Linked DNA regions of Homo sapiens: all the other regions are linked to region 1. The links come from fine-mapping of genetic effects on gene expression. A gene starts in region 1. Each other region holds a variant in brackets. All regions are shown on one strand. Distances are between the middles of the regions.

What was found. PIP is the estimated chance that this variant, and not a neighbour inherited with it, causes the effect.
Region 2: its variant is fine-mapped to the expression of OR6K3 in whole blood (TOPMed, PIP above 0.99).
Region 3: its variant is fine-mapped to the expression of OR6K3 in whole blood (TOPMed, PIP 0.98).

What each region holds. Positions count from the first base shown.
Region 1 is chr1:158,714,885-158,726,257 of GRCh38, reverse strand. It overlaps OR6K3 (olfactory receptor family 6 subfamily K member 3), which reads left to right and starts at 5,538. Exons shown (of 2, transcript NM_001005327.3): 1 at 5,538-5,575; 2 at 8,126-9,931. The coding sequence starts at 8,143. The coding sequence ends at 9,090. It also overlaps the pseudogene OR6K4P.
Region 2 is chr1:158,795,492-158,806,864 of GRCh38, reverse strand. It overlaps a transcript of OR6N1 not described here and the pseudogene OR2AQ1P. Among named protein-coding and RNA genes, the nearest start is that of OR6N2, 20 kb to the right of the region's middle. The variant A/G (reference allele first, on the strand shown) is at 4,907.
Region 3 is chr1:158,741,170-158,752,542 of GRCh38, reverse strand. It overlaps the pseudogene OR6K5P. Among named protein-coding and RNA genes, the nearest start is that of OR6K6, 7.9 kb to the left of the region's middle. The variant G/C (reference allele first, on the strand shown) is at 4,724.

The DNA of each region.
Region 1 (11,373 bases):
GTTTTAAATTCATGATTTATAAATAATTTAAAAAATAGTATTAGCTCAGGAAAAATATTTGCTCTCTTCATGGAGAAATGCTGGTGTACAGCATAAGCAAATGTTCTTGTCCTCAGACATTCATTTTTACCCCAAAGGAGATATTATCTTTCAAACTTCCTTTGTGTTCTAAATCTCTCTCCTTAACTAATTTTCGATCCATCTGTTAGGCTAGCTTCTGAATGGCCTGGACAATAAGCCCTGGGTGCAGCTGATGAGTTTCTTGCACTACTTTTAGGGATAGCATCTTTATATTTTATGCCACTTTTGAGGGACATGGTATCAAGAGACCTAAATTGTGCTGGAATACCACATTTTGGCCTTTGCCTTCTTATGGTGATGGTCTTTGTCAGGATATAAACAATCTGAATCCCGTGACTTAGATATTTATAAAAAACCTCTGCTTCTTTTCAGTATTTGTCATGGACAGACGCTTAACATGACTGACAGGATACCAAATCTTCCACTGCCGAATTTCTCACTGATCCCTTCTTTCTGTTCTGGTCAATTTCTGGTGGCTTAATTATTTTCTGCTGCTGAGAATAGAATTTCCTACCAAGGCTTTACCTTCATATTTGTGCCTGAAAACTTTACTCTCTTTTCTAGCCACACTCAGTGTCACTCTGTGGTGCGATAAAGGAGCAGAATACTAAAAACTAAAAATATTCAGGAAAATGGAGAATACAACTTTACAATAATTATATAGAGAGAAAGACAACTAAAAGTTTTGTCTAATCTGCATCTAAGAACCATTAGAAAATTTATATGGTATATGATTCAAAACAATTTGGGGAATTATTATAAAAGATTATTAACACCTTTATACATTTACTTTAGTTTATATAGTTTATAAATATGACATTCTTAATATCTTATTTTCTTATTGTTGGTATCCTTCTTTTGAATGTAAGCTTCATGAATGTAGAGATTATTTTCCTTACTGCTGAATTCAACAAACCCACAGCTGTGTTTGGTACATAGTAGGCACTAAATGAATATCTGTTTAATTCATAAATAAAGAGAAGTACATGATCCACCTAAAGCATATTTTTCATTTGACTTTTATATAAGCTAACACATCTGACTTTGTCAATTTCTTCTAGGAAATGAGCTGTGTCTTTCTATCCATAGCTGTTAAGGTTGCTGAGACCATGGTGAGTATTAACCAAACTGCTACAGTAAGTAACAGAGTTTCTCTTCTCTGGATTCCCACAGTTTGAAGATGGTAGCCTCCTCTTCTTCATTCCATTGTTTGTTATCTACATATTCATTGTCATTGGGAATCTTATTGTATTTTTTGCAGTCAGGGTGGATACCCGTCTCCACAACCCCATGTATAATTTTATCAGCATTTTCTCATTTCTGGAGATCTGGTACACAACTGCCACAATTCCCAAGATGCTCTCCATCCTCATCAGCAGGCAGAGGACCATCTCCATGGTTGGCTGCCTCTTGCAGATGTACTTCTTCCATTCACTGGGAAATTCAGAGGGGATTTTGTTGACCACCATGGCCATTGATAGGTACGTTGCCATCTGTAACCCTCTCCGCTACCCAACCATCATGACCCCCGGGCTCTGTGTTCAGCTCTCTGTGGGGTCCTGCATCTTTGGCTTTCTTGTGTTGCTCCCAGAGATTGCATGGATTTCCACACTGCCCTTCTGTGGACCCAACCAAATCCACCAGATCTTCTGTGATTTTGAACCTGTGCTGCGCTTGGCCTGTACAGACACGTCCATGATTCTGATTGAGGATGTGATCCATGCTGTGGCCATTGTATTCTCTGTCCTGATTATTGCCCTTTCTTATATCAGAATCATCACTGTAATCCTGAGGATTCCCTCTGTTGAAGGCCGCCAGAAGGCCTTTTCTACCTGTGCCGCCCATCTTAGTGTCTTTCTGATGTTCTATGGCAGTGTATCCCTCATGTACCTGCGTTTCTCTGCCACTTTCCCACCGATTTTGGACACAGCTGTTGCACTGATGTTTGCAGTTCTTGCTCCCTTTTTCAACCCTATCATCTATAGCTTTAGAAATAAGGACATGAAGATTGCAATTAAAAAGCTTTTCTGCCCTCAGAAGATGGTTAATTTATCTGTAGATTAATGCTAGCTCATAGGCACCTTTCACTGTGGATGTTACTCTAACACAATAAACCATATAATTAACATATAATTCATTCATTGTCACATGGATATTTTGTGTCTCTTTATACTGGTTCTTCCCATGTACATGTATATCCTGCTTACACATGCCAAATTAAGATAGCATGGACTACCTGTCTAGACTTATACAGGTGGGTAAAATATAGAAAGGAAATATGATGTTTAAGCCATTAAACATAATTAATATGTTTTATGAACATTAATTTATTATTTGTATATAAACATTTTAAGTAAATGCTTATTACATTACATAAGCATTAATAACAACTATGAATTACGAACCACAGTAGTTAAAAGAATCAGATCTGCAGAAGAGGTTAAGGTTTGTATTTCAGTGATGCCACATATTGCTTTGTGACTTTGAACAAGTTGATAATTAACTTGTCTGCATCTTAGTTTTATCATCTATTGGTATAAAAGTAATATATTTTAAAAGTAGGACTTCAAATGCTAATATGAATATTAAATGACTTACTCCATGCAAGTGCAGAGAATGTGCAAAACACAGAGCTTGTGCAAAATAAGTGTTATCTGTTAATATCATTTGCAACTAATTACTATCTTTTGTTATTGATGTTTTAGAGAATGCTTTAATAAAGAGTGATATATTAAAAACAAAAACTCATGCTTAGGAATACTTAGCTATGATTATTATTTATAGTATATTTGTTGTTATTATTTATCTGGAGCCAAGTTGAATTCAAACTTCATTTACTTAGACTGCTTTGGTTGAATTCATCCAATTTGGTTGAATAAAATTATTTGGTTAAAAGTAGTCTCCAGCACATTCCAAAGTGATAGATAGATAGATAGATAGATAGATAGACAGATAGGTAATAGAAATATATATCATTTGAACTACATTACTCTTGTTTTCACTTTTGCTGCCTTTAAAATGTCTATGCATTGCCACTAGAAATTAATTTTCTAAAATTCAAGTTTAGATTTGTGTATTAAGATAACAGTTTAAACACACATATTTAAATTTTCTTCCACAAAAAACTCAATAGAAATAAAAGAGTCAGGACTAGATGAACTGTTAGATGACCTAAGAACTGAAAAGTGTAAAGATATAGTAATGAACATTAAAATATCTATAAGTTTACCTAAAAACCTTCATGATAGCTATGTCAGTACTCTGAAATATTATATACCACTTTCTTTTTTCTAGAAAAGAAAATAATTTCTGTTTATATCAAAAGCACCAGTTGATTCTGTTTATTGGATAGTCCAGGAATGAACAAAAATATATATTGAAAATTTAACAGCAAAAAACAAAAATCAAAATTAAGTTAAACCAAAGCATTATATATCCTGGGGAAAAGAGTTCCCACAATTGACCTCCAAAGTTAAAACACTTCCTCAGGTATGAGTACATGAGATCCGACTGAGGGAAATACTTATCTGCCCGGTGTTGGACAAGAAAACAGAAGAGGAGAGCCTAGAAATTAACTGGATGAAATTCCACATACAACCGATGGAAAAAATAATTAAAGCTTGGAAAAACAGAAATTGAGAACGATGCTCTACTTGGGAAATCTGGATAGAGAGAATGGAGCCAAAGAATGTATGAAATTTCCCAGTCACAATGGAGTTATCCACTGAGCTGTGTTCAGAGAAGGACATGAAAAGTAAATCTTAAATTTACAAGCCAGAGAAGTGAGGAACTATCCAGGTAAACTGAGGCTACTAAAACAAAACAAAAAAGCACAACTTTTTAGCACAAAGCAATAATCTATAACTAATACTGAACTTCGTGGCAGATATTTCCATATTTGCTGTGCATATTTAGATATTTAATATTCTTATTTTTTGTATCCAAATATATTCTCTCCTTCTCTCTCACACACACAGACAAACACAGATTGCCTTCTTTAAAACAATGATTTTAGTTTTGCCATACACCGTTTGTATTAAAATCATTAACTTTGTCAAATGCATAGCCCAATAAGTAGTTGGATTACTACAGTTAAAGAGAGAGAGAGAGACTGAGAGAGACAGAGAGGTTAGGGAATTGAAAGTAAATGCTCTTTCATTACATAGACTAACTCTAAGACACAAATCATTAAAATGTTTCCTATTTAAAATTTTGATGAGATTTGTGAAGATATCAGAAAAAAAGTTGAGAAATAAAAAATACAAAATTTAATATACAATGGAGATATTGAAGAATATATTAAATACTACAGGAAATTAAATTAATGTTTTGTAAGATTGCCTGGAAGATATGTCCCAGAATTTAGAGAAGCCACATGAAGAGCCAAATATTACATGCAAAGAGAAAAAGTTATATATGGAGAATGTATTAATAGATATTACAGAGCAAAATATGATTATGAAAATTCTAGAAAAAAAACAAAACAGAGGAAAATAATAAGTAAAATTAAAGGAAAATATTTCTGAGCTTGAGAATACTTGAGTCATGGGATCAAAACAGACTGTTTTATATTATACAAAATCATTGGAAATACAATGTGGCCTGTTGACATTTTTGAATTAAAAAAAACCTACAAGTTAGACAACCAAAATAGGCTCCCAAATCGTAAGAAGAAAAGTTAGACAAAACTCAGAAAGCACGTCTTCCTATTTGAGAACTTGATACATATTTCCAGAAGAAGATGACATGATAAAAGTAATTAACTTTGAAAAAAATGAGAACTTTGCAATTTCAACAGATCAGTGGATGAAGCACAGATATAAATAATACTCTTGTAGAAAAGATGAGATATTGATCTTCAATAAAGAAGTCAGCAGAACCAGTGTGAGTTGTTCAAGGTAGGAAAGACCCATACACACTCACGACATGAGAAAAACAAAAAAAGACATGGTTTCCTCACTTTCTTCAGTATTGGCACTAAATCCCCAGTGCCATGTTTATTATGAAATGGCCTTATTTTCTGTAAAATAGCTTTTCAAGATGATCTTCTGGTGTCAGTATATTCCTTCCAGGCTTTCCAAATCTGTGTGTTCATATAAGAAGGCCAGGATCATGTCAAAACTACCCTTTGCATAGTACACTGGTACACTCAAGAACAGCTGAGACAATCATGAAAGTGCTAGAGAAGGAAGCTTACAAATTTGGGAAGATGAGTACAATCAGGAAAAATATATATATTTATTGACAACTTCGATCTGAAAATCTAACAAAAGGAGAGTAAGAGGGGAAACTTTCTGTTAATTAACCCCATGAGAGAAGGTGATTCACTTCAGTGCAGTGGAGGGGAAGAATCCTCCACAGAGCCCAGTTCCCTTTCCTGTTATTCCCTGGATGCCCTATGGAGAGACTATAAATCCCTTTTTGAAAAGGCTGAAGTAATATTAAGGATGCAGTGACCCAGGCAGACTGAGGAGTCCCTGTGTTTTTGGCAAAGGTGAGTGTAGATGACTAAGTCATAAAGAGACCGAATTCATTCACCATGCATAATCATCATCATCATCATCATCTCATAACCTGAAGACCTGATTATTAAAGAATTTAGAACTTTGAATAAGGGTGGAAGGCAAAGGTATTTACAGGAGGAAGCTCTGTTCAGTGTGGTTCTGGGCATGGGTATATATGAAACAGCATGCCACATTTATAATGCCATTTTCTGAGAGATCATCTAGTCAAGACTTGATTGAGGCTCTCATTAGAACTGAATTGTCATAGTTCCCTTTTCAAACAGTCCCCAATTTTCTTTGTTCACTTACTCATGGCTGTCTTGTGCACTTAGTTATAATTGTACCAAGTGGCTGAGTTCCAAGTTAATTTATTTGATACCTACCGTCTCTACATATTAACCCTGTTGTAGTCACTATGAGGGATAAAAGACATTCACTGTCCTGAAGGAGAAACCTATAGTCTAGAGAAGGTAAAACAAGTAAGTTGATGATGGATCCTGACAAACGCTTCAATAAAGCATAATGGCATTCAACACTTCCAAGTGTTTCCTATATTCCTAACACTAAGGTTTTAAAATACATTTACATGTATTGGTAGAGGCAGTCAACTGTATGTAGGTTAGAATGTGTCTCTAGAGATACAGTGCATAGATTTAAATTCTGACTTTGCCCTGCATTAGCCGAGAATTTCTGGACAAAGAACTTAACCTGTCTGTGCCTAAGTTTTCTCCTCTGTAAAATGGGGATAATCATTTCACCTCATTAGAGCATTAAGAGCATGAGGTGAAAAATATATACAATGTGCTTGGAATAGTGCCAGCATTAGTGACGTAATAATACCGTATACTATACTGTACAATTCTATTGTTATTATAAAATGTTTAGTTATTCTCAGGACTTCATTAACCAGTATTAATATTTTCTCAGTTTTACAAATGAGATATTAAAGGCATAGAGAAGCTAAGTAACTTCATGTTAAGTCACAGAGCTGGTAAGCCATAAAGAGAATTTAAATGCTAGCAATTTTTTTTCTGGCATCTAGACTTTTAACCAGCAGTATATATTGCTTTTGTGTGAGGAGAGGGGGCAGAGGAGGGAGAGATATGTTACTTTAAAGTCAGAGGAAGTAGCACAAACAGGAGAGAACTGTGATTTTAGAAAGCAACATGAACAATGGGATTGCAGGGGAGAGAGGAGTCGGAGAATGTTAGCAGGTGAAGCTACAGAGAGTTAAGAGTCAGATAGTTGGTGTGAAGCTTATGAAAGAGAGATTGGTTAGAGAAAAACATTTAGAAGTATTAATAGTTTAAATCCTGTAAGCGGATGAGATCACTAAGGGAGTGTATAAAACTATAAGAGGTTGAAGTGGATGATAGGAACCTGGGGAAAATAGACTCTTGGGAAAGAATTTAAGAAAGACAACACAAGCTAATATAAGAGAGAAGAGGCAGAATAAGAAAGAAAATATAAATAAAATAAATAAAACAGAAGCAAAAGTCAAAGCTAGAACTGCCTTTAAAGCTATCTGGGCGTCACGTCCCTTGAGAATGGAATCGTGGAAACAGAGGAACAAAGTCTCAAGCAGGAGTAATGAAAAGTGTCGAGTGCCAGAGATGACTGGATAGTTTCCATTAGTAATTAGCAGGGCATTGATGAACGTGATCAGTATAGTATCAGCATAATGCTCGGGAGGAAGCACACAGCAGTGTTAAAGGAGAACAAGAAATGCAGAGAGGTAGATTGTATCACTCTTTCCAGAAGTTGCCTATTAAACACTGTCCAAATCTTTCTGCAAGTATTTACTAAATCCTACAGCATCCTTGTTAGATAGGTACTATTTTTAATCCCATTTTGCAAATGATTACCTGATACTCTGAGGTATTAAGTAATTTTCCAAAAGACATATAGGTAACAATAGACAGGATTTCAATGTCAACTTCAGGTTTACATTGTAACACGTTAGAACAGAGATTTTCAAAGAGCATGTGCACAATGGCCCAGTCGGGTAGGGAAAGAGCATAATATAACTTCTGTTATGTTTATTCGTATTCATACTTTTTAATTTTAAAATTTATTATATGAGATACAGATATATAATTTTGTGTTATTATGCCTTAATATAGTAAATGTGTATAACTTATAAATGCAAATACCTATATTAGAGATTAAGCTAAAATAAAAATAATTTTAACTAGTTTTTTTATTATTAAAACATTTGGAGACCCCTATTTCTGCAGTTGTGCCAATAAATAAGATGTACAGCTAAGCAACTTTGAGGAATAAGAAGAACTACCTTGAAGGTTTCATTTTTTTTTCTGACTTTAAACTAGTGTACATATTGTCCAATGTTTGATACAAAAAAAAATGTTTGATATGAAAAAAATCAAACATTGGACAATATGTACATGAGTTTAAAGTCAGGAAAAAAAATGAAACCTTCAAGGTAGTTCTTCTTACTTCTCAAAGATGTTTAGCTGTACATCTTATTTATTTTTTTCTCTACCCTCTCATGTGCTGGACTATGCCCTCTCCATTTACAGGTAGCTCTACTAGAAATATGGAGAGCGGAAACCAATCAACAGTGACTGAATTTATCTTCACTGGATTCCCTCAGCTTCAGGATGGTAGTCTCCTGTACTTCTTTCCTTTACTTTTCATCTATACTTTTATTATCATTGATAACTTATTAATCTTCTCTGCTGTAAGGCTGGACACCCATCTCCACAACCCCATGTATAATTTTATCAGTATATTTTCCTTTCTGGAGATCTGGTACACCACAGCCACCATTCCCAAGATGCTCTCCAACCTCATCAGTGAAAAGAAGGCCATCTCAATGACTGGCTGCATCTTGCAGATGTATTTCTTCCACTCACTTGAAAACTCAGAGGGGATCTTGCTGACCACCATGGCCATTGACAGATACGTTGCCATCTGCAACCCTCTTCGCTATCAAATGATCATGACCCCCCGGCTCTGTGCTCAACTCTCTGCAGGTTCCTGCCTCTTCGGTTTCCTTATCCTGCTTCCCGAGATTGTGATGATTTCCACACTGCCTTTCTGTGGGCCCAACCAAATCCATCAGATCTTCTGTGACTTGGTCCCTGTGCTAAGCCTGGCCTGTACAGACACGTCCATGATTCTGATTGAGGATGTGATTCATGCTGTGACCATCATCATTACCTTCCTAATCATTGCCCTGTCCTATGTAAGAATTGTCACTGTGATATTGAGGATTCCCTCTTCTGAAGGGAGGCAAAAGGCTTTTTCTACCTGTGCAGGCCACCTCATGGTCTTCCCGATATTCTTTGGCAGTGTATCACTCATGTACTTGCGTTTCAGCGACACTTATCCACCAGTTTTGGACACAGCCATTGCACTGATGTTTACTGTACTTGCTCCATTCTTCAATCCCATCATTTATAGCCTGAGAAACAAGGACATGAACAATGCGATTAAAAAACTGTTCTGTCTTCAAAAAGTGTTGAACAAGCCTGGAGGTTAATACAGAGCCACAGGTTCCCTTCCGTTGCTTTTGTTTTGTTTTGTTTTTTGAGATGGAGTTTCACTCTTGTTGCCTGGGCTGGAGTGCAATGGCATGATCTTGGCTCACTGCAACCTCCACCTCCTGGTTTTGAACAATTCTCCTGCCTCAGCCTCCCTAGTAGCCGCGATTACAGGCATGCACCACCACACCCAGCTAATTTTTGTATTTTTAGTGGAGATGGGGTTTCACTGTGTTGGTCAGGCTGGTCTTGAACTCCTGACCTTAGGTGATCCAAACTCCTCTGCCTCCCAAAATGCTGGGATTACAGCTGTGAGCCACCGCATCTGGCCCTTTCCATTGCTTTAATGTTTGTCTAACATATTAGAACATGAGATTACTCTATACCTAGTGCTTTGTCACACTGAAATTTCTGTCATCCTAATTATTTTCCCTATACCTAGAAAAATATTTATACTCTCTGTGTCATCGTTATAAAAGTTGCTGTGCATATCATGAGGAACCTTATTATGTGGCTGAATAACTGTAGTTTCTTTCTTCTGAAATGCTGTGGTTAAAGAAAATTTGTTTGCCACTTTAGAGGGTTAGAACTACAGAGCTTGAGCTTCAGAAGCTGACAATGTGCTCTGTGGTAGTATGTGTCTATTTAGGTAACACATCTTAGAAAAGTTTTTTTGTTTAATTATGAGTCATGGATTACCTCATTGGGGTTTTCCAGAAATAGAGATCTAAGAAAAAGCCCAAACAACATTTAATTAAGTTATATCTTTATTTTTAGTTATGTAGTTACCTATTCATTAGAATAATTACATGTTTAGTAAGATTAGATTATTAGTACTGCCACACATGTTTAAAAGAAAACTACAAGATAAGATACTATTTACAGTAATATACTTTGGTTTCCACAAATATCAATTTTAGTTATTGTTTGCCTTTTCCAAGGTTAAACATCTTCACTTTCTTTATTTACAGTAAAAAATATTTGGTGTATTCACTAAATGGTAGTGTCAAAAACACAGATGATTCATTTAGCTTTTTGACTAATAAATTTAAAAACTTTCCTCTTCTTTCCATATTTACTAACATTGCCTTAATTTCATTTTCTATAATTATTTATGCACAATTATTATAATTATCTTTAAAAAATACAGTAAAATTTTGAAATGAAGATAGTGATTTTATCTCATGTTTTAATTTTCTTCTTTAACGAATCCAATAAAATGACCAAACCCTAGATCATATAAACTTCTTAAAGGCTTTAAACCTAGAAAAGATAATAATGATTCTCATTTTTTATTGAGTGGTCCAGCAGTGGTCATATCAACATGTGAACACAGAGAAAACATAAAACTACCCTTTCCAACATGTATCACATTACTTCCCCTAAAAAAAACCCCTAAAAACCTATATAAATCCTGACAAACAGAAAAGAGTGACTTCAATAGACAAAATCCAAATGGTTTCCTGAAGACATAGTGCAGATAAAATAAAATTCAAAGGAATACAATAGAGGCAAGGGAAGGGCCTATTTAGTAGAAAATTTGAAGTAATCTTTTCAGTAGGTGTTGGAAATTCCAAACTGAGAACAATTGAAAGGTAGGGATGGGGAGGTGAAATTTATGAATATCTGAAATATTTCTAGCATGTTAGGTGAGAAAGTTGCTTACCTAAATATTTGTTCCCTGGTCTTCACCTGGTGGATCACATGCTATGTAAAGCTGGGCTACCCTAACTTCAATAGTTCTGGTTTAGGTTCCCATAGCCAACAGAGAAAAAAATGCACATTGGTGATTCTTCATCATATACTTTGACTATATACATTTTTCTAAATGAATTAGAGCTCTAATCTAACAAGGAAACCATTAAAATTAAAATACTGCTGTTAAAAGCAGCTAAGAAAGGGGAGATGGTCTTTCAATCCCATATGACATTTTAACCTGTTTCCTTCCCAATCATTTTAAACATGGTTCATACTAATTATAAATAAAGAAAACAAAAACTTACACCAAAAGACTTGTACTTGACTAAAGGTTGCATTTCATGGCTTAATGGTGGCCTCCTCAGGAAACATATTATTTTCTCATGGGAATTTGAACTTGCTGTATTATCATTCCCAGGTTTCCAGCAACGTGAGTTGAAGAAGAGGATGGACCAGGGGTGCTGGAGAATCCATAGAGAGACCATAGAGGGCAACTTTTACCCCAGTGGACACCTTTAGGAACTGTCCTCACAAGTACCTGCATGCATAGTAGCCAAACAATTTAGCCCAGAGAGAGAGAGAGA
Region 2 (11,373 bases), 81 kb before region 1:
TTCTTAAGGAAAGCAGGACCTGAACTAGGTCCAGATGTGTAAGATCTGAATTTGCAGAGCAGAGATGGAAAGGTGTTGGTACAAATTCAGGTGTTGCCATTTTTGCCTCTATGATTTTGGGCAAAAAACATAAGCTCTCTCTAATGCCAGATTTGTTTTCCTTTAAAAAAAAAACTACATCAAAGTGTTCTAAAGTTAAATAACACATACTAAGTATTTCATAAGCAAGTTAGTCTCAGCATACCAGAATCAGGACAGTATAGTGCTTACACCACGGTCTTTGAAGGCTCTCTGCCTGTGTTCAAAAGTCAATTCTATCATTTATTTGCTGTGTGATCATATGCAATACACTTAAATTCCCTCCACCTCAGTTCCCTTACATGCAAAATGGGGACAATAAAAGAACGTTAAGCATGTAAATATTAATCATTGTTACTTCAGAGTTTTCCACATAAATGTCTTCAGTGGGGATTTATTTCTTTGATAATGCTTAGTTTTACAGCTATCTCACATTGTTATTACAATAGACTTGGTAACTCTCCAAATGAGGCATCTTCTTTTGACCTAAGGGTCCAAATTTATCTTGTCATAAACTGAGTAGTCCCTGCTTTCAAGAAGTCTATGCTGTTTCCCAAATACATGGTGCAAAACTCTATTCTGCTGACAGTCTGAGTCTACTGCTTTTGGGCTCCTTTTCTTTCTCTCCTTCTGCACCTCACTTCACTCAGACTACTCTTTTTGCAGGAACTATTATGGGCCCAACAGAAACTCTTTTTTCCCTGTGGTGGCAGCACTAGAAGATGGCTTAAATTGAAATGGCTTAGATCACATTAATTAATAGGTAATTATAGTAATAATAATTACTAAAACTGTTATAGCAATTCTTGATAATTACTAATATCTGTGGGGTGCATACTGTGCAGTGAACATGGGGGACTTACCATCCTGTAGTGAAGACATAAGCAGTCATCTAACAACTCAAAGTGGCTTATATCTCACTATTAATTTGTACTACAATGCATGGTATCCACTCATATTTGAACAAATGAATGAATGAACAAACTCTTAAGAGTCAAATGGGTGTGATAGAGATTGAGTTCCCCTCTTGAAACTCCACCAGAAGGTATTTTTTTAAGATCCATTTATAGCTGCAAACTCCCCTTGCCTTTCATTCTGTACTCTATTCTATATTCTTTTTTTTCTCTTGAGACCTCCTTGGGTATTTCCTTTAGAACATAAAGTTCAGGTCATCTTTAGCGCAGAGCTTCTCAACAGATATAAATAACAGATGTGCTGAGTTACTGAGTCCTTGCCCCTAACACACACCCTATGAATGGTCAGATAGGACCTAAGGGAATTGAAGTCCTTGGACTGGTTGCCTCAAGCAGTAAGTGGCCTTTCTGTTCACCTCAGTGTGTCCTACAGATACCATCACTTTTATAAGCGCTATGATATGAAAATAAAAGTTTGAGAAGTAGTGCCTTAGTGTGACATATTGGGGTAAGTGCCCAAGGTGAGGTCCAACTTTTGGCCACTTCTCCCATGGTGACAATTGGATATTGACTCTAGCAACATAGACAGTAAGAAGCAGTCACGTCTGAAAGGCAGCATAATCAGACCATTCACTTGGTACTAGCATCAAGGCTGACATTCTGTCATACAGGACATTCAAACTCAAGTACATCAGAGAACAAAATGAAATACTATCAATGTATCCAGTGACAACAGATATAAACCACAGTTGTACTGGGCAAACAAGGGCATGTGACCTTGATGTATCACTTCATTTACATAGTTGTTTTAAAAGTTTATTTGCTTCAATAAATAATATCTCTAAAAGGTTCAAAAATTCATCTTATGTGTGAAGTTGAAATTTTTTCTTACATGTTTAAAAAACTTATATTTTAAAAAATAATCAGGTGATTTGAGGATCTGTCTCCTCCCACTCTATATAATAAATATCTTAAGGGAAGCAACAGTGTTATACGCATCCCATTTTCTCCAGTTCCTAGAATAAAGTCTGGGACATAAAAGCTGTTTCAAAAATGTATTAAATAAATAGATAAATGAATTATTGTGAATTTCCCTATTTCTCACATTATGTTAGTTGCATTTCATATCATTTTTTTCCTAACATTTACAGCACATTTTAAAAATAATGTATTACATATAAATATAGGACATTAAATGTTTAGGTAAATAAAAATTTAAATTACTTATAATCCCATTACTTCAAAAATTATTTCTCTATTTATTTCTAAATTTTAGTAAGCATATGCTGTTTTTCCAAATAGTAGCAATGATACTATGAAAATTTGAACATGCTGAATACTACTTTTATCACTTAAGCTTTTAACAAATAATTTTAGATCTCACCTTTCTCCTCAAATAATGAATTGCTTGATGAAGATATCAGTGTAACCACAGAACCAGTTCAATCTGGTTTAACTTTGTCAATAACAAAATACAACAAAATGATGACTTGTTTTTTAGTTGCAATGGACCCTCAGGTTGTATGTAACCCAAGTGTGCCCAGATGAACCAAGTGTGCCAGATTTGTGACCCTGGAGCCAACCAGAACAAAAAAGTAAACCACATGCAGAACCTAAGTATTCAGACCAAAGGATGGTGATCAAATTAAAAAGGAAAGGAGACCTGTTTTGTTGCAGCACAATCCTAAAAGTCAAGGACCTGGCATAATCTCTTCTCAGGAACCAATCAGATAACGCTTTGTTGCATTTTCCTATCTCCCTCTTAATTGCTCTCTGCCTATAAAACCTGTCCCCAGACCTCAGTTAGGGGAGACAGATTTGAACATTGCCTCCTGCCTCATTGCTGGTCAACCTTGAAATAAGGCTTCTTCTTTCTTAAAAACTGGTGTCACAGTATTGGCTTCTAAGCTCATGGGACAGTGAACCCATTGCACAGTAATACCAGAACTTGTCATTTTCCCTCACTCTATTTCTGATACAGAATAAATGCCAAGTAAGCACTCTTTACTGACAAGTGGTGACATAAAAGAGAAGAAACAATGTTCTTGACTAGGCAAGAACTAAACTTGGAAGCCTTGATTGTTTAGTACGCATATCTACACTAACTGATTCTAGGTAATGTTTACAATTCTTATGCTCAGGTATTTGTCATGTTGATAGCCTTCTGAGGGATCATGCATGGGCATTGTAATTTATTCAGTCAATGCCAAGCCATACAGGTATACAGTTAGACAATACAAATGATGCAGAAAGTCTGTCTCAGAGTCTGGCTCACAAGAGGAAAAGAGGAACGTAGGAACACCAATGTGATGTGATATAGGGAGGAATAAAAATGAGTATTAAAGTGGCCACTTTGAGTACAGCACAATTATTCATTTGAAGAATTGGGATAGATGGCTAATCTATATATCCATGAAATAAAAATGAAAACAAAAGATCTGTTGGTGCTTGAGACTGTGGGAGATGCAGTAATTTAGTGAAGGATAGTTTCAACTATCCATCTTTGTGAAAGGTTAGGTATTTCAGAGTAAGTGGGACATAAGCTAAATGCTGATTAAGGTTGAATGAGACCCTCATATTGTCCAAAAATTTGAGAGACTCTTTCAATCCCAAAGTCACATTAGTACTCTCAGAAACAAATATCTTCCTTTCCTTTGGCTCAGAAACTTTCCGTCTCCTACAGGAAAGCTTTTCCAATTTGAACTCAGAACACTTAGTATTTTTCTTCCGTTTAATATGATTTACTTGTTAATCTTTTTATGGTTACCTCCGTATCTTAAATTTAATATAGCAACTGCTTTCTTTCCACCTGATTCTGAAAAATAAAAGTACATTTGGGGCTATGAATGATTCAAATACCTTACTTCTGATAGATAAATGCTGTAATTCCATTATTCATCTGGACTCCATATCCATCTAAGTACATGCCCACAGAGAACACACAGCTGAGATAAGAGTTCAGATGTCAAGATTAGGATGTTGATGAACATATTGAGGATATGGATATAAGTAAAAGTAATAATGAAAAAGTAGATTAGTCTCATGAAGATGCCTGGGTAATAATAATGGTAGTGATAATGTAAGTAATGGTAATAATACTGGTGATGGAGACTTAGACAAGTGTATTAGGTATTCAACATCAATCATTTGGAACAATGGCTAAAGATAGCTGACATGGCAAAGGGAGGGACAGTGGTGAGAGTAACAAAGGTAGAGATGGTAAGCGCAAAAGTGATAGTGGTGCCTGTGCTGTGATAATATGGTGATGTGGTGAGGTTAGTAGGGATGGATGAGAAATCTCCTTGCAAAAAAAGCTTTTAAGATGAAACTCACCTCTGGGGTGCTAAAGATGTGATTCTTCATGTATTCAAGTTGGATTGTCTCTTCTCATGAAAAGCTATGACGGGGAGGCCAAGGCGGGTGGATCACGAGGTCAGGAGAGCGAGACCATCTTGGCTAAAATGGTGAAACCCTGTCTCTACTAAAAAATACAAAAAATTAGCTGGGTGTGGTGGCACATGCCTGTTGTCCCAGCTACTTGGGAGGCTGAGGCAGGAGAATCGCTTGAACCTGGAAGGCAGAGGTTGCAGTGAGCCGAGATCGCTCCACTGCACTCCAGCCTGGGTGACAGAGCAAGACTCCGTTTCAAAAAAAAAAAAAAAAAAAAAAAAAAGTGCTATGAGGGACTTGCAGAACTTCTAGAGTCCCAGAAGAGGCAGTGTCCCTGGGATTGGATTCTAGAGCCAGTGAGGGTTGCAGAAAAGCCATTTGAAAGAGAGTAGGGCTGCTTTACTTCTCTGTGTCCAACTTCCTACCCCAGAGGAGCACTTACAAAAAACTTTACACACTTAGCAACTCCAGAGAACATATAGCAAGGAGCCCCTGGGAGGTCAGCATTTCCAGGAACATGAAAT[A/G]TAAGTAGGGGAGTGTCTTGGGGTAGAAAAGATGCAGAGGAGGATGTTGTAAATTCTAATGTCATCAAAACCATCAGGTAATGGGCAGGGGTGGTACAGAAAAGATTAGAGTATCTAAAAAAGAGAACTAGGTAAAGGCTTTGATCTTTCCCAGATAAGGACTATTAGAATATGGAAAGAAAACTCCAGGGACATTGATATAGACCACCCAACTCCATATCCACCCTAGAAACATTTTTCAATGGCTTTAGAGATCCACAGACTACCAGGGTGGTGAGGGGCTTTATACAACATTTATATAGAGAAGGGGAAGTTGAAGTAAAGAAAGGAGAAATGGTTAAGCCCAATGTTCATTTTGAGTTAGTGGCAAAACAAGTTTACAAAGTCAATTTAGAAATAGAATGCTTTTTCTGTTGCGCTACAGCCCTTCTAGACCAACAATATAGGGGCCTTAGCTTACCAATTCCTCTCTCTCCTCATTCCCTTTGAGAATTCCTGATGCATGTCTCCCTTAGGAATCCTTCTTTAAAATGTACTTTGTCTGTTCATTGATTCTTCATGTAACCCTGCAGTTCTGACTTTGACAGATGGGACATTTCTTTAGGGACTAGATGGATACTTTTCTGTCTCTCCTGTTTTCTGGCAAGGTGGGTGGGAAAAAAACCCCGGCATTTAACAATTTTGTTTTAAGGAGCCAACCCACTCTCTCTCTCCCCACCGCCACCCCCACCTTTTTCTCTTCTTCACATACACACACAGACAGACCACACACACACACACACACACACACACACCAGTATGTGCAGCAACATACTGACTAACACCAAGAAACAGACTTTTTTTCATTTTGTTCTATGTACTTTTGTGATGATGGGAGGTCATGAAAAGTGGTGGGAAGGAGTGCATGGATTGGTGAGAAGTGAATGAGCAAAACAAAAGAAAGTCTCATGGAAGTGTAGAAGTGTATTGTGATCTCTTCTCATGCCTTAGACTTTAGAATGCTAACTGGGCACCCAGTTGCTACTTCTCTGAAGGTTCTCTGAAGACCAAGCGTGGAACTGTAGGATCCTACTAGGAGATTCCCTGTCTGAGGATAACATAGCCATAGCTTATTGAAGATACAAAAAGAAAACTTATTTTTGAAATAAAAACTCTCTGGACAACCTTTTAAAATTTCTTTTTAGTGATAGCGTAAGTTTTGGGTTTCCTGTTTTTGAAAAATGATGTTGAAATGCTTTCTTTCCAAATGCAGGGATGACTTTGTATTTATTTTAGCTTATTTTAAGAGAAAAGATATGTGTAGAGAACAATGTGTGTGGAGTAGCATACAGCAGCATTATCTCCCTCTCAATTTAGTAAATTTGACTAAGATCACAGAATGTTCTGGGGTCCCCACCTATTAAATGTGGATAAGTTGTCCAATTTGAGGTTTTTCTATGGCAATATACCCTCAGGTAAATTTTCTCTGAGCATCCAGCTCAGATACGGACTATATTCTCTTTTCTGACATTTGGTGGATCCTAAATAAAGGCAAACCAATTTTAATATTGTCAAACCTTGAAAATTAATGTTGTGGAGAAAAACAACAACAGCAAAATAGTAGAAATCAAATCCTTGATTTTTTTTTTCTTTCCTAGGTAAAAGCAACTTTTCCTTTGTGGTATGGGGTAGATAGGTTCAACTGTTGGGGTAAGCCAAGACAACTTTTGAAGACTTGCTTTGAGCAAACACCATTTGCAGCTAGGTGAATTCCACCAGGAAGTCACTGAGAATCATTGAACTTCTGATTTAAACGGTGCTTAAGAAGTCATCTGGTCTAAACCCCTCTGTCTTTACAAAAACATAAAACTGAAATCAAGAGGTAGGGAATAACTTAATTAATTAAGGTTACATGGCAACTTAGAAACAGACTGAGAATGGGATAGCACCAACGTTTTCTAACGCTTTCCAGTATACCTTTTGGCTTCTTTTTTTTTTCCATTTTATCTGAAGTAGAAAGCCTCTGGCACCAAGCACCATGCAACACATGTAGGCGGGAAAGCAGATACAATGAGTCATAGACTTCTTCTAGGGCCCTATCTTCCCATAGAGTAACTCATATCTGTAGACAACATGGCTGGCTGTGGAGGTTCACAAGTCTTGTCCAGCCACCCTTTCTTCTCTCAGACTCCTGCAGTCTCAATTTTCCTTTCCAGAAGTAAGTTTGGGTTTCATACTACACAAACCATCCCATGATGTCGCTTAATTTTGTGATCCTTGATTATACAAGGATCCCTGACTACACAAACATACGATTTATAGTTGGATGTCCTTTGTCTATTTTCTCATTAAATCTCCCACAGAAGGTAAATAGATAAATGTCTTTTCAACATTAGTTAGTAGGTAGATTCTAAACTTAATCCAAAAGATTTAACTTTCATTTAAAAACCAAGAGGATCTAATCATGTTGACTGAGTTTTCACCCTCCTTACCATCCCTGACAACTGTGGGTTTTTAGAACATATATGATCCCACAAGTCAGCCTACATATGACCTTTCACTTGAATGACCTTCTACTTAAACGTAGGCTAGAGAGAGAAAATCCTTTTAAACACGATTTATATGAGCCTGCAGAGTAATTATTGGGAAGGTATTTTTTGTCTATGTTTATTAAGGTCTAAACGTAATGCCAATATTTTATGGGTACGTTCGTCATTTCTTTGGCTAACGTGGTGAACAAATCATACAGTCTTTTTAAGCTTTCTCCAAACATTGACTAGGTGTGAGATAAATGGGGATCAAGTCACCTGGAATCTTCTCAGGTAAAAACTTTAGCAATAGAAAAAGATTTTTATTTTAATGAGAAGGTCTATTTCAGATCAACTAAATTAGATACTTTGAAAGTGGGGTCTAGTAATTGGTGTTTTAATAACTTCAGGATGTTATGCATGCAAGTTAAAGTCTGAGAACCAGCCGTCTACTCCAATTGGTGGGACTGGAAGGGGGAACTGGGCATATGTAGCACAGTTCTTTCCTGTGCTCTTCTCCCAGGGAGCCAGCCTGCCCGGTTTGTGTGTTCTGCTCTGCTTTCTGCCATGCAGTGGAAGGAGGTCTGTGGCTTTCCATGCTGCACAGTAATCACGTAAAAGCACTGTAAGGAAAATTAACACGCCCACTATCAGAGTAAGACATTTGAAATCTCTCCCCTTAGGAATAAAAACACCAGGCAAATAAATCATAAGTATATATATAAATTATTTGTAGAATAATTAACAAGGTCCACCTACTGGAGGCACATGGAATAAAGATTGATTTCAAGCACAGTGGAATTAAACAAATGCTTGGCCATAAAACAAGTGTCAATACAGTTAATAGAATTAATAATATTAATATAATATAGACCTCTGCTTCTACTAGTGATATAAATAAATTAGAAATAAATAAATGATAAATTTCACATGTCCATATGTTTGATATTTAAAGAAAATACTTCCATACAACTTACTCTCAGAAGTATCATAGGAAAAGTAGAAAACATCTATATCTGAACAATAACAAAAAGTATAATTTCAAAATATTTGGGAAAAAGTGCTTTTTAGAAGTTTATAGCCTTAAATTTAATATTATTTAAAAAGTATAAAATTAATTAACTAAGCATTCAAGTTTAAAAATTAGAAAAATAATGTTAGGGCAAAAAAAGAAAGTGTAAGAAAAAATCTGGGAGCAGAAATTAATACAATAAAAATAAATATATGACAAAAATGATATACTAATAAAAATGTTGGTTCCTAAAAATAAAAATAAACTCCTGACAAGACTAATAAAAAATAAAGGAGAGAGAGGGGCAAAAATAAGAAAGATTAAGAATGAACAATTGGCAGAATTACAGATGCATCAAAGTTTAAAGTTATAATAACATATTACTAATAATATATGCCAGTTAATTAAAATTTTAAATTGGCTGGATTCATTTCTAAAAAATTATAAATTAGAAATATCAACATCAGAATTAATATAAAATCTAAATGATATTAAATTAGAAGTTAAAAAATCACTAGAAAGAAAACATCAGTGGCAGCTTGCTTAATAAGTGAGTTCTATCTAATATTGACGAAAAACATAGTTCCTATTTTTACATTCTTCTGAGAATTAAAACACTGGCAATGCAGCTCAACAGTGCATTTTACAAAGATAGCCTAACAGTGATTCCAAAATAAATAAAACTAGTAATGTGAAAAAATAGATGATAATATCATTCATTAACATATATGCAAAAGTCTTCCTCCAAATATTCCTAAGCTAAATTCAATAATCCCAGTTAAGAACAAAACAAGATTAATTACCAATATTACTTTTATTTAATATTGTACAGAAAAAATATGACTTAGGTCACCAAAATGATAGAGTAGAAGCAACCTGGCTCCACTACCCTCGATCTCATAGAAAATAAAAAACAAACAACAAAATATACACATACAGTGCAGAAATTATCACTAGCAATATCCCAGAACCCAAATAGAAGGATGAGATAGTTTCTGGGGTTGCAGAGAAGTAAAAACGCTGTGCAGAGGGTGATAGAATCGGATTTTTATAAGTATAACGCTTTCCCCCCGATTTGTCATGAACCAGGCATTTGGGAAATTTCCCCTGATTCACAGTTACTACATTGGAAAAGGTAAGTTCAAGATGGACAGCCAGCTTTCTCAACATCTTGGGTTTCCTGGCAGGAGACCTGTTCCTGCCTCAACACACAGAAAGGTGCACAAGTACTTGAATGGAGAAAAATTCCTGAAGAATGACAGAGACAAAGGGGGCAGGTGGGGCTAGCAGCATCCCCAGCCTGGGAAACTCTCTGTATCTTGGCTGAAGGAGTTGCCAAATTAGAGTGTTCAGTAGAACCTCACTGTAGGAGGTATGTTCTGTTAGTCTCTTGGGCACAAAATCCTAGACAGCTTTCCCATTCTGCTGCATTATCCCCTTTGGGACCTCCCCCATCCTGGACAGGCAGCACTCTGAACACCTGCTAAAACAGAGGTAAACCTGGACTTAGTTGCCACTTAGTGCTGAAAAGGAGGCAGTGACCTACAAAAAAAAAAAAAAGGTAAGTTGTAAAGAAAACGCTAAGCAAACATATCCAATAAAAACAAAAATATATCAGATAAAGGAGACTGGAATAAATAATTTTTCAATTTAAAGACAAATGTACATACACAAACAGAAAATCATGAGCTCCCCAAATTGACAAAGCAAGGAACCAGTAACCAACACTAATAAGACAGCAATAGGGAAGTTCCCTGATTAAGAATAAAGAGAAGTTTTAATAAAACTCAAAGATATTCAAAATAATACAAAAAAGCAATTTAGAAATGTATCAGAAAATTTTAACAAAGAAATTGAAATAGTGAGAAACAAATCAAATAGGAACCCTGGAAATTAGAAGTATATTTGCTAAACTGTAAAATTCTTTAGAGGCTCTCAACAGCGGAATGGATCAGGCAGAGGAAAGAACCAGTGAGCTCAATGACAGGGTGTTGGAAAATACACAGTCAGAGAAGAAAAAAGAATGAAACTAAATGAAGGAAGCCTACAAGACATAGAAAATTACCTCAGAGGAGCAAATCTAAAAAACTGAAGTTCAAGAGGGAGCTGAGCATGAGCAAAGAATAGAAAGCTTAACAAAAAGATAACTGATGTACTTTTAAGGTACCAAATAAGACCCCTCCAGGTTGCCCATGATTATGGAAAACTCTGAAGCATACTAGGTCCTTGAGCTGTCCCTTTGACTCTAAGTACTTTCCAAGAAGCCCCTTTTACATCCTTGTTCCTGAGGCTGGAGATGATGGGTTTTATGAAGGCAGAGACAATGCTGTAGAACAGCACCAACTGTTTTCCCACTGTAGGTTATACTAGGAGTCAGACCTCAAGTACGTGATCATGGCGGGCCCTTAGAACATGGTGACCACACTTTTACTTTTTTTCCATGATGGCAGGTTGAAGGCATTGTTAACGTGATTCTACCACTTAGAAAGACAAAATGGTGTGTAGAGATTCATGCTGTGGACTTTTTTCCAAGAAGCAGCACAGGAACTTAACAGGAAAACTGAAAGAAGCCGCAAACTCTGTGAAAGAAGTAGTGTGCAGCAGCCTACACTGTGAACCAGACAGAAAACTGAGTCTCCAGAGCATAAGAAGTGGGGAGACCGCTGTCATGACACACATTCCCACAGTGGGGAGACTGTTGCCATAACACACATTCCCAGAGGGGAGCTGGGCAATCCAGGCCATGGGGGAAGGCCTTATCCCTACTCAATGCTGGGGCTGATTTAGGGAGCAGTGGGCAAAATATGAGAAGGAACAACATGGGGACATACTTTGCATGCACTCCCAGATGCCACTGGAGATGGAGGGAAGCCATTCCTGATCCTACCTCACAAGGGACCTTGCAGAAGTCTACTGGCATCAGGCAGTGGTCACAGGTTGAGAGAAGC
Region 3 (11,373 bases), 26 kb before region 1:
TGCGCCTTCCGAGTTGGGGTGGGAGCACCCCAGGGTGTCGCTGCAAGCCACTGTTGCAGACCCAGGCATCCTTGTGCTCTTGGGGCCAAGGAGAAGGTGAGAGCCCCATCCTCCAGGCGCAGCTGCAGCCACCCAAACCCAGGCTGTAGATCTGGGCCACCTGCTCCATGGAACTGGCAGAAGCCCCACCCAGGAGGTTCGGGCTACAGCCACCCAAGTCATGACTGTGGATCATGGCCTCCCACTCCTCCATGCAAGTGTAGCCACCCAAACCACGGCTGCGGACCCAGGCACCTCTGCGCTCCTGGGGTCCTGGGAAGGTCCCCCTTCTCTTGCAGGTTTGAAAGTGCCTGCTCCTGCTGCCTGGCTTCTCCCTGCTGTCAATGTCCACTCCAATCTAGGAGCAAAGTAAGGGCTGAGACCCAGTCCTATTGTAGTCTGTCCAGGTATGCACATGCTACAAGCAGTGCTGATACACCAGCCCCTTGATGCCTTCTCCCTCTCCAGACTTTGGGCACCAAGAAGCATAGGAGGGAAGCCCAGGGGGCACAGAGGGCATCTCAGAGCTGGCATGCAGGCCCCCCTTCACACCTACAGCCTGGGGGCCATGAATGGCAACAGAAGCAGACAGATTCCTGGGCAGAAGGGGGCAGGTCCCTGGTAAGGTCCCACATTCAAGCCAGGGAGGGCCTGAAAACTGGGGGCTGGGGTACCAGTCCCTCAGACCAGAGCGGGAACTTACAGTGCCCAGCTAATTTTTGGATTTTTAGTAGAGACGGGGTTTTATCACATTGTCCAGGCCGGTCTTGAACTCCTAACCTCAGGTGATCTGCCTGCCTCGGCCTCCCAAAGTGCTGGGATTACAGACGTGAGCCACCATCCCCGGCCAGGGAGTCTCTTTTTTGTGCTTGTAAAGCATCTAGTGCCTACACCTGTTGTTAAAATTATCTAGTTATAAGTCTAGATTCTAAGAAATTTGATGATTATCTATCAATATTAATTTATATTTTAACCTTTAATGCATAGCCCTAAGACTTACCTAAACTCAGGTAGTGTATGTTTAATAGAAGACGATCAACTAGGATTTTGAGGTGATAATACAAGATCCATGTTTATAGATTATTTAGCACATACGCCTGGCTTCAATCATATGGCATGTGGAATGTAATAGGGAAGAGACAGAACTGGAAGGTAGGGTTTGGCAGAGTGTGGAGGTCTTTGAATGTCAGACATTGGGATTTTGAAAGCATATTTTTCACATAACGGAAAGTTATGAGATAATTTTTGAGTTGGAATTAATGCACAAAATTGCGTTGATGATATGTAGAATGCATTTAAGTAGAGAAATTATGGAAGTAGGAAGTATTATTTATTCAACTCACATTTACTGAGTACCTATCAGACATCAGAGCCTATTCTGCAATAATCTGGAGTAAAGGCCTAAAATAGAACTGTAATAATGGAATTAAAGGACAGAAGAGATGGGAGTAATTGTGAATAAAGAATCAATAGGACCCGACACCTGATTATATTTGTGCTATGATGGTAAAAGGAACATTAAAGGTAACAGATTCATAAGGTTGAGTTCGTCTGTTAGATGGCACTATCGACAGATATAGGACCAGCTAAAGCAAAAGCTTGTAGGGGCAATTATAAGAAGATGAGTTATAGATATTTTATCTTGAAAATGTGAGAGAACTTTTAAGTAGAAATGTCTATTTGCCATTAATGATGAAGAATTGGATTTCAGAAGAGATGACAAGTCTCTTCTTGGACACATCTGTGGACACAGATGTCTGTTATTTAAGTAGAGATTATAATTGAACTATGAGAATGCACTAGATAATTGAAAAAGAATTTAGGGAATATGAGAAGAGACTGGAGGATTACAATAGGTAGGTGAGAGAAAAATGGTATTAATAGTAAATAACTTTCATTTATTAAATATGTGACAAAATCTGCTAGGGCATTTTTATATTTCATCTCATTTTATCCTTTCATAGTTCTGTAAATTAGTCATTATTATTTCCACTTAACAGATGAGAAAACTAAAGTTTAATGACCATGTATTTTCTCTGTAGTCAGGTAGCTAAGCAGGTGGCAGAGTAAGAATTTGAACCTAGGTCTATCTTATTGTCTTATCCTGAAGAGTTCAGGAAACGAAGAGAGAATCAAGGCAATGATGTATTGCAGAAATCAAATGAGAGAATTACAGGAACAAAGAAACAATCACTGGGTGAAATAGGGAATTCGACTAGCTTTTTCTTTTTTTTTTATATACTTTAAGTTTTAGGGTACATGTGCACAACGTCATCATTTTTTATGGCTGCATAGTATTCCATGGTGTATATGTGCCACATTTTCTTAATCCAGTCTATCATTGTTGGACATTTGGCTTGGTTGCAAGTCTTTGCTATTGTGAATAGTGCTGCAGTAAACATACGTGTGCATGTGTCTTTACAGCAGCATGATTTTTCTATTATTATTTGTAACACTCAGCAAATAAAATTTAAATATATTATATAATATATCTTAATCTCCATTAAAAATTATATACATAGGTATGTATATATACCTATATAAAGAGATATATATTTAAAAATGGGTGTCCATCATAAAAAGTAAAACTTTGAAAATAAGAAAAAGAAACACACAGCATTAAGACCATAAAGAAGAAAGAATGAAATTAGTTAAAGATGATATAAAATTTCCAAATGAAAATAAAGACAAATTATAACACAAAGTTCAGCAAGTGCATAGATACAAATGGATATATTTAACATTGCATTATTATATGTAACAGTTGACAAAAAGTGTAATAAAAAGATGCCATTTGAAGTATCAACAAAAATAAAAAACTGTAAAAGATATGTTACATCTAAACATAGCACTTTATAAAACTGTATTGGACTATATCAAAAACATAAATAAATTGATCCATATGCTGTATGAATGAATAGAATGTCTCAGTTACATAAACATGCCAATCATCTACAAGTCAATCATTTCAACCCAATTTCAATCAAAATCTCATTTTGAGTAGAGAGGAGTGGGATATGTAAGAATGAGGGCCAAGAAGAAGACATTTCAAAGGAGGAGATTAAAATGGTGCCACTTGTCTATTTAGTAAAAGTTATTATGAAGCAATATTTGTAATAAAATAGCAGTGGGAGTAAACAGCCAATGGAAGCAAAGAAATAGACTAATATAGTATGGGATTTTAACATACGTGAGAGTAGGTATAGCAGACCACTGGGGAAAAGATGAACATAGCCAGCACAACAGGTCTGTGGAAAAAGGTGCATTGTTTAATCAATTGTATTGGAACTTTAGTTAAAATTTTTCAATTCCATATAAATATAAACCATAAATTTAAAGACTGATGAATAAAACTATTTAATAGTTCGTTTCATCAAATAGCATCATTAAAAAGAAAAACAACAAGATATACACTAGGAGTCTGTATTTGTAATAACGTTTATAACTGATTATTTTTATTTAGAATATACAAAAAGCTTCTACAAAGTAATAAGAAAAAGATAAACAACCAAATGAGGAGTACACACACACACACACACACACTCACACATACACACATACAACATTCAACTGCAAATCAAAGCAATAGCATATTGTTTACACAACAACTGAGTAGCAAAAATATGACCACCCAGAACATTAGAAAAGATGTGCAACAATAAAAATGCATTTATTGTTGGTGGTAGACAGATTCTGAAAAACAATTTGGCAGCATCTAGTGAAGTTGAAGATGCAAATATTCCAGAATACAAAACGTTGAAGGCTAATGAATGATTAAATTGTGCTCCATTTATACAAGACAGCAGGGATTTTCTTTTAAAGTTGCAGCTAGATACATTGATGTGAATGATTCTCAAAACATATGTTGAGTGAATAAGCAAATTATAAAGTAATGCCTAAAATACCATTCTATTTACATAGAGTAAAACAGAACTAAACAGTATATTGTTTTTGAGTGTGCACACATGTGCTAAATAGAATAATAAACACAAAATTCAGGTGAATGGTAATATGTAATATGGCAATAAAGAACTGGATTGGGGAGGAAAGTGTAGTGGTCTTCAAAGTTATTCATAATATTCTATCTCTTAAGTGGGGTTGTAGGTTCATGTGAACAAGAAGTGAAAAGGTGGAGACAGAAATACTGATAAAAGAGTAAACTATGCTTTTAGGAAAATAAGATCGGGAAGAAGAAAGGCAGTATGGCAGACTTAGAGCAACAATGAAAATGAGAAAGAGTATATACTTTAATATGTTTGAGCATATTCATAAGCTATATAAGCAGACTAAAAAGAGGAAAATTTGGAGGATACATAGGTAAGTGAGACAACTGAAGGAACAGTGTCTCTGCATGAGATGAGATAAATAGGTTCAAAGCGTAAGAGGAGGAATTTATCTTAAGTGGTAAGACTGGATAAAATCAGGGTCAAAAAGTAAACATCAGTGTGGCTACAAATTAGACTATCTTTGAGTCACTATCTGATTCTTTAGCTATTCGCCGATTCATTTAATTATTCGTTTATTTAGCTACATATTCCTTAATCGAATGCTTATTGAGGGACTGTCTTTATTTATTGTTATTGTTTTTTATTTTTATTTTTTAGAGACAGAATCTCACTCTATTGCTCCGGTTGAAGTGCAGTGGCTGCTTACAGGGGCGATCACGGTGCACTGCAGCCTCGAA[G/C]TCATGGCCTCAATCAGTCCCCCTGCCTCCACTCAAGGATCTGCCTTAAAAATCGCCTATTAAAAATCTAATCATTCAGAGTCGAAAGTCACCTCTGCTCTGACTCATTTTTCGCACCATATATGCCTGTGTCTCATAAGTTTTTTTTTTCTAATTTCAAATATGCTTTCAAATTCTGTTGCATTTCTATATCCACTGCTACTGTTCCACTAAACATTTAACACTTCGTGATTGTTTTATATCTCTTTTTGTGATAGAAGAAAAAAATCTTATGTGTTGTATATGTCTATTTCTTCTGCCTTTACCCACCTGGAGGTTAATATTAAGTCCAATTTCAGTTTTTAAAAAGTAGGAAAAAAAGAATTAGAAAAGTATCCTTCTGCTTCTATTTCCTGTCCTCTATATGAGGGCCCTTTTTTTTTTTTTCCTCAGGTCTGTCCAAGGTCTAGCTCATGTGTGCTCATCAATACAGCTTTCATGTAGCAGGAAAGGTTGCCCTTCAATCCTTTCCTGACTCCATACACTTGGGATATCTGCTGCTGGAACCCCTGAAACCCATGAAATCTCATGAGAGCCCCCTCATTACTGCCACTACTGCAAATGGCCCTGTGATCCCTGGATCCTTCTGAAGAAATTCTACTAAGCTGTGCTGGATGGCAGCTGGCTGAATCTTCTGCAATACACTTCAGGGTTGTGCTGTGTGATCACTAAACTGCTCCAAAGAGTAGAGAAAATTCTCCTGCCTTTGAACCACATTGCGTTAGTTTCATTCCTTTTGTTCCTTATCCTTTCCCTTTCTCAGCAGATTTTGTAATTTAAACTATTCTTTTACCCCTTGGACAGAATGGAAAGCCAAGTACTCTTTTCATCTGATTTCTAGCCTGACTGAAAAACCTAGCTTCCCATAGGTGTGTTGACCTCATGAAAGGGGAGTGTGTCAGCAAGTGTTTTCCTAATTAGTCTCATGGGGCATAGAGTTGCTTTTCCCTAAGCCCCCCAGGAAAGAGCCCTTTAGAAGAAAGCCTTTCTCCCACTTAGCAATTCCCTGTGATGCTTAGAGGTGTGGCTGTGGTTACAACCTTCCTACTTATTGGGCTGCAGAGCAATGAAGATGGAGACATTTGGAAAAGAGGAGGTGGCTCTGTTGGTTTCTGGAAGAGGTAGCTATGGACTGATGGGTGGACTTTCTACTTTGAGATATGAGTGAATGACTTTGTTTACTAGATATTGGGGGACAATTTTCACAGAACCATATTATTTCCTATTGGACTTTAAAGAAGGACTTGTGGAAATTTTGTTGAGATTGTGACAACACATGAGGTAGAGGAAAGGACCATAACTTAGGGATGGAGGGCTTTGGTGAGTGTTTGTCCTACAATTAGAGATTGCCGTAAGATAACAAACACCTGGACTAAATCTGTCAAATTGTGTCTGGCCCACTAGCTCTATGACTCTTTCACAACTCTACTATTTTCTGAGCTAAATTCTAATCTAGGTTTGTATTGTATTTAGTGGCATCAGGACAGGCTCTTAAGAATAAAGGAATGTCAGGACAACTAGTGGAGCTTCTGGTTGAGATTCTGGGGTATCCATTCCTACAGAAAATAGGAGAGTCCTATTAGGTATAACTTTGCTCCCAAGACTCTATATCAAATTGCCTTCCTATAGGCATCCTCTTTCCTTCTTAAAGACTCAAGTTCCTAAAGACCTACCTTTTTAACAAAAATTTCCAGATTTCAATTTTCTAATTCCAAACGGTACTGGACATAGAGCTTAATGCTTCTTTCCCTGTTTGTCTCCCTACTGCCTCTGTAAGCAGAACACAGAACAATTACACGGGTATCATTTTCTATCATACTAGGAAAGCCTGTTGGGGATAATACAGTCATAAGATATTGGGATGACAAAATAATTTTACAATCTCATATACAGCCATATTATCTGTTCTGCTTAAAGGCTCAGGTTTGATTTGGAACCCTACAGAGAGCCAGTATAAGGTTTTCAGACAGAGGATTGACAGCTTTGCATTTAGGAAAGATTATTTCAGTAGCTATGTGAAAGTGAGATGTAGTAAGACAAGTCTGGAAACAATAAGCCCAGATAAGAGTAATTAAGGTAAAAATTGCTAGAGTATAAATTATTTTTTATGAGCCTCCATTTCTTATGTAAAAGTTTTCTTAAAGAAAAACAAGGGAATTTTCACCTCATATTTTCCTGTTTCAACATAGACTTACTATTTTGCTGTATGTATAAAAAGCAAGAGAAAAAAAATTGTGGTTGCCATATGCCAAGCTGGGTTCTTACTTGTGTATAGCCTCCGGCATTACGGTTTCCAAATAATTTTATCTATTTATTGTATCCATTGGCAGTTCAGAGTTGTCTGACTTTTTTGGTAGATATCAGTAGCTTTCTCCATTTAGAGGTCCCATCTTCACCTCAGTACCAAGTGAAGAGTCAGAATTCTGCCATGCAAACAAACGTTTATTAGCAAACAGGCAAAAACATACTACTATTAGGCCTTTTCTTGGAAGCTCATGGAAGTCTCAACTCTTTTTCCTTATGCTTTCTGGTTAGTATAATAAATGAAGGTTTCTATCAAAGATAAAATGTAATAAAATTCTCTGCAGTAGAAAAGCTAACTTTCTAGTGAGATTAGGTGATAAATACCCTTTTAAGGAGGGAACACAGGAATGAATGGATCATGTGCCTATTGCACCTCTCCAAGCTCTATAGGCTGCCTAGCTCATCCTGTTTTATATCCCTGCAAGCCAGAGGTTAGGAATACTTTCAGCCAATCAACGTATCTTGATCACCTGGTTTTTCATTAAAAAAAATTTCTGTATGCCAGTGGTTCTTAACTGGCACAAATTTTCTTCTACTTCTTCCCTGCAGGGACATTTGGTGATTTCTAGGATGATTTTGGTAGTCATGACGAGGGAGGGGTCTATGCTACTGACACCTTATAGGTGAGACCAGGGGTGGCTGCTAGACATTCTATAATGCACGAACAGCCTTGCCTTCTCTCTGAGCAATGAATTGTCTGTTTCAAAATGTCAATAATGCTGAAATTGACAAAACCTGCTTTACATTATTTAATAAACTCTACAGTGTGGATACAGATAAGAATATTTGAAGCCCTTGTCAAAACTGCCTCTTGAGGTAGACTATTGATTAAAGTATTTCAAATGTTGCAAATTACACCTAGAATGTAATTTCTAGATTAGCTCACTTCAACTATTAACTAACTCCCTGTGATAGTTAATACTGAGTGTCAACTTGATTGGATTGAAGGATGCAAAGTATTGATCCTGGGTGTGTCTGTGAGGATGTTGCCAAAGGAGATTAACTTTTGAGTCAGCGTGCTGGGAAAGGCAGACTCACCCTTAATCTGGGTGGGCACCATCTAATCAGCTGCCAACGTGGCTAGAATATAAAGTAGGCAGAAAAACATGAGAAGACTAGACTAACCTGGGCTCCTAGCCTACATCTTTCTCCTTTGCTGGACCCTTCCTGCCCTCAAACATCAGACTCCAAGTTCTTCAGTTTTGGGACTCGAACTGGCTTTGCTTGCTCCTCAGCTTGCAGACAGCCTATTGTGGGACCTTGTAATAGTGTGAGTTAATATTTAATAAGCTTCCCTTTAACTATATATATATCTCCTATTAGTTCCGTCCCTCTAGAGAACCCTAATACACCCCCTTTAGAGTGTAGATTAGATTAATTTGTATACCCATATATGTCACATGAGATTAGCCTCTTGTGTCTTAAAGTAAATAATATTTGGTGGAATGTTTGGATTTTTTCTTTTCATTCAATTGTTAATAATGAGTCAGACTAAGGGAAGCTGCTAATCATACTTTAGTTTCAAACATGCGCACTTAAAAATGAGTTTATTCTTATCCACAGAGGGTATCATTTTGTCATGACCCATTCTTCTGTGTCCCCAACACTTCATCTCAAAAAAATGAAAATGTCTACTTACTTAAATTGTTCCTAATTTACTGTTATAATAAATGTTCTAGCTAATATTGTCATATATTTCTTTTTTAATATCTGAAATATTTCCCCTAGACTACATAGTGAAAGGCTTAAACTCTAAACAGTCTTAAACTCTCAATATAAATTGCCAAATTGCCATTCAGGGGAGTTTGTACCAATTTATATGTCTAACTAGCAATACTGTTAGCTTATCCAACAGAATAATTGACAACATAAGTTATTATAATTACTAAATTTGACAGGATAACTTTATATGTTGCAAAATGACTCACATAGTATATTTTATTTAACCAGCCTAATTTCAAGGCTGTTTAGTTGCTTGAAAAGAAGGTTTTTATTTGTTCTTTGCATGTACTTAGAATGTTGACTGTGTTTTATGAGCCAACAAGTGAAACCGCTGAAAATATGGATCCAGAGAATCAGACAATGGTGACTGAGTTTTATTTCTCTGATTTTCCTCAATCTAAGAATGGCAGCCTCTTATTCTTCATTCCTATGCTCTTTATTTATATATTCATTCTTGTTGGAAATTTCATGATTTTCTTTGCTGTCCAACCGGACCCCCATCTCCATAATCCTATGTACAGTTTTATCAGTGTCTTCTCCTTCCTGGAGATTTGGTACACCACCGTGACTATCCCCAAGATGCTCTCCAACCTTCTCAGTGAACAGAAAACCATCTCTTTCATAGGTTGCCTCCTGCAGATGTACTTCTTCCACTCACTCGGGGTCACAGAAGCCCTAGTCCTCACAGTGATGGCCATTGACAGGTGTGTAGCCATCTGCAACCCCCTTCGCTATGCAATCACTATGTCCCCTTGACTGTGCATCCAGCTCTCCACTGGCTCTTGCATTTTTGGCTTCCTCATGTTACTGCCAGAGATTGTGTGCATTTCCACTCTTCCATTCTGTGGCGCCAACCAAATTCATCAACTCTTTTGTGACTTTGAACCTGTGCTGCAGTTGGCCTGCACAGATACGTAAATAATTCTGGTTGAAGATGTGATCCGTGCTATTTCCATTCTGACCTCTGTCTCTGTCATCACCCTTTTCTATTTAAGAATCATCACGGTGATCCTGAGGATTCCCTCTGGTGAGAGCCGTCAGAAGGCTTTCTCCACATGTGCAGCCCACATTGCTATTTTCTTGCTGTTTTTTGGCAGTGTGTCACTCATGTATCTGCGCTTCTCTGTCACATTCCCACCATTACTGGACAAGGCCATTGCACTGATGTTTGCTGTCCTTGCCCTACTTTTCCTTTTTTTTTTTTTTTTTTTTTTTTTGAGACGGAGTCTCGCTCTGTCGCCCAGGCTGGAGTGCAGTGGCGGGATCTCGGCTCACTGCAAGCTCCGCCTCCCGGGTTCACGCCATTCTCCTGCCTCAGCCTCCCAAGTAGCTGGGACTACAGGCGCGCGCCACTACGCCCGGCTAATTTTTTGTATTTTTAGTAGAGACGGGGTTTCACCGTTTTAGCCGGGATGGTCTCGATCTCCTGACCTCGTGATCCGCCCGCCTCGGCCTCCCAAAGTGCTGGGATTACAGGCGTGAGCCACCGCGCCCGGCCCTTGCCCTACTTTTCAACCCAGTAATCTATAGTCTGAGGAACAAAGATATGAAAAACGCCACCAAGAAAATCCTCTGTTCTCAAAAGATGTTCAATGCCTCTGGGAGCTAATGGAGTTCACACACACCTCTTCAAAGAAATCTCATCATCTCCTTAAGTTTAAAATGCTAACAAATCAGTTTTTTAAAATTACCACGCACTTTTTCTTTTTTTAACGAAATTATTTAAAGACATTTTGGCATGTATTTTCAAAGTGAAGTATCTCTTTAATGATTTTTAATATGAATAACAACAGTACTAAGTTTTGTGTCTATCATTTTAATTTATAGGTCTTGTTTTTCTAAGACTATAAGTATGATTTATAAATGTTATTACTTTTGCTTGAAAAGTAAGTTAAGCTGTAAAAACAAAAACAAAATAAGTACGTTAAGTTTTAAAGATATTTAAATGATTGTAAAACCTTCTTATACATGTGTCTACATTGTTCTCTTTTCCTGCACTCCACATTTCTTTGTGAAAATCTGTATTCATCTGGTGTCATTTTCCTTCCACCTGAGAAGCTTCCTTCAACTTTTCTCACACTGTGGGTCTGTGGATGATTAATCGTTTTTGTTTTTGTAAGTTTCAACAACGCTTTGTAAATCTGAGCAAGTATTTTATTTTGTCCTCATTTTATAAGATGTTTTTTTCTGGATATAGAAGTCCAAAATATAAGATTTTTTTTTCTTTTTTTCCATGAGTTAAAGATGTTGTTCTGCTTTGTTCTCACTTGCATTGTTTTTGATGAGTAATCTGCTGACATCCTTGCTTGTGTTTCACAATATGTTATGAATGTCTTTTATCATCCCTTTTATTTTTTAGTTCTCATTTATAAGTGGGAGCTAAACATAGAGGTTACATGGACATAAATATGGAAACAATAGACACTATGGACTATCAGAGGTTGTGAAGGGGTGGGTAAAACAACTACCTATCAGGTAATATGCTCACTACCTGAGTGACGAGATCCGTACTCCAAACCTCAGCTTCACGCAAAATCCCCGTGTAACAAATCTGCACATAAACCCACCGTACGTGTTTTGATTTA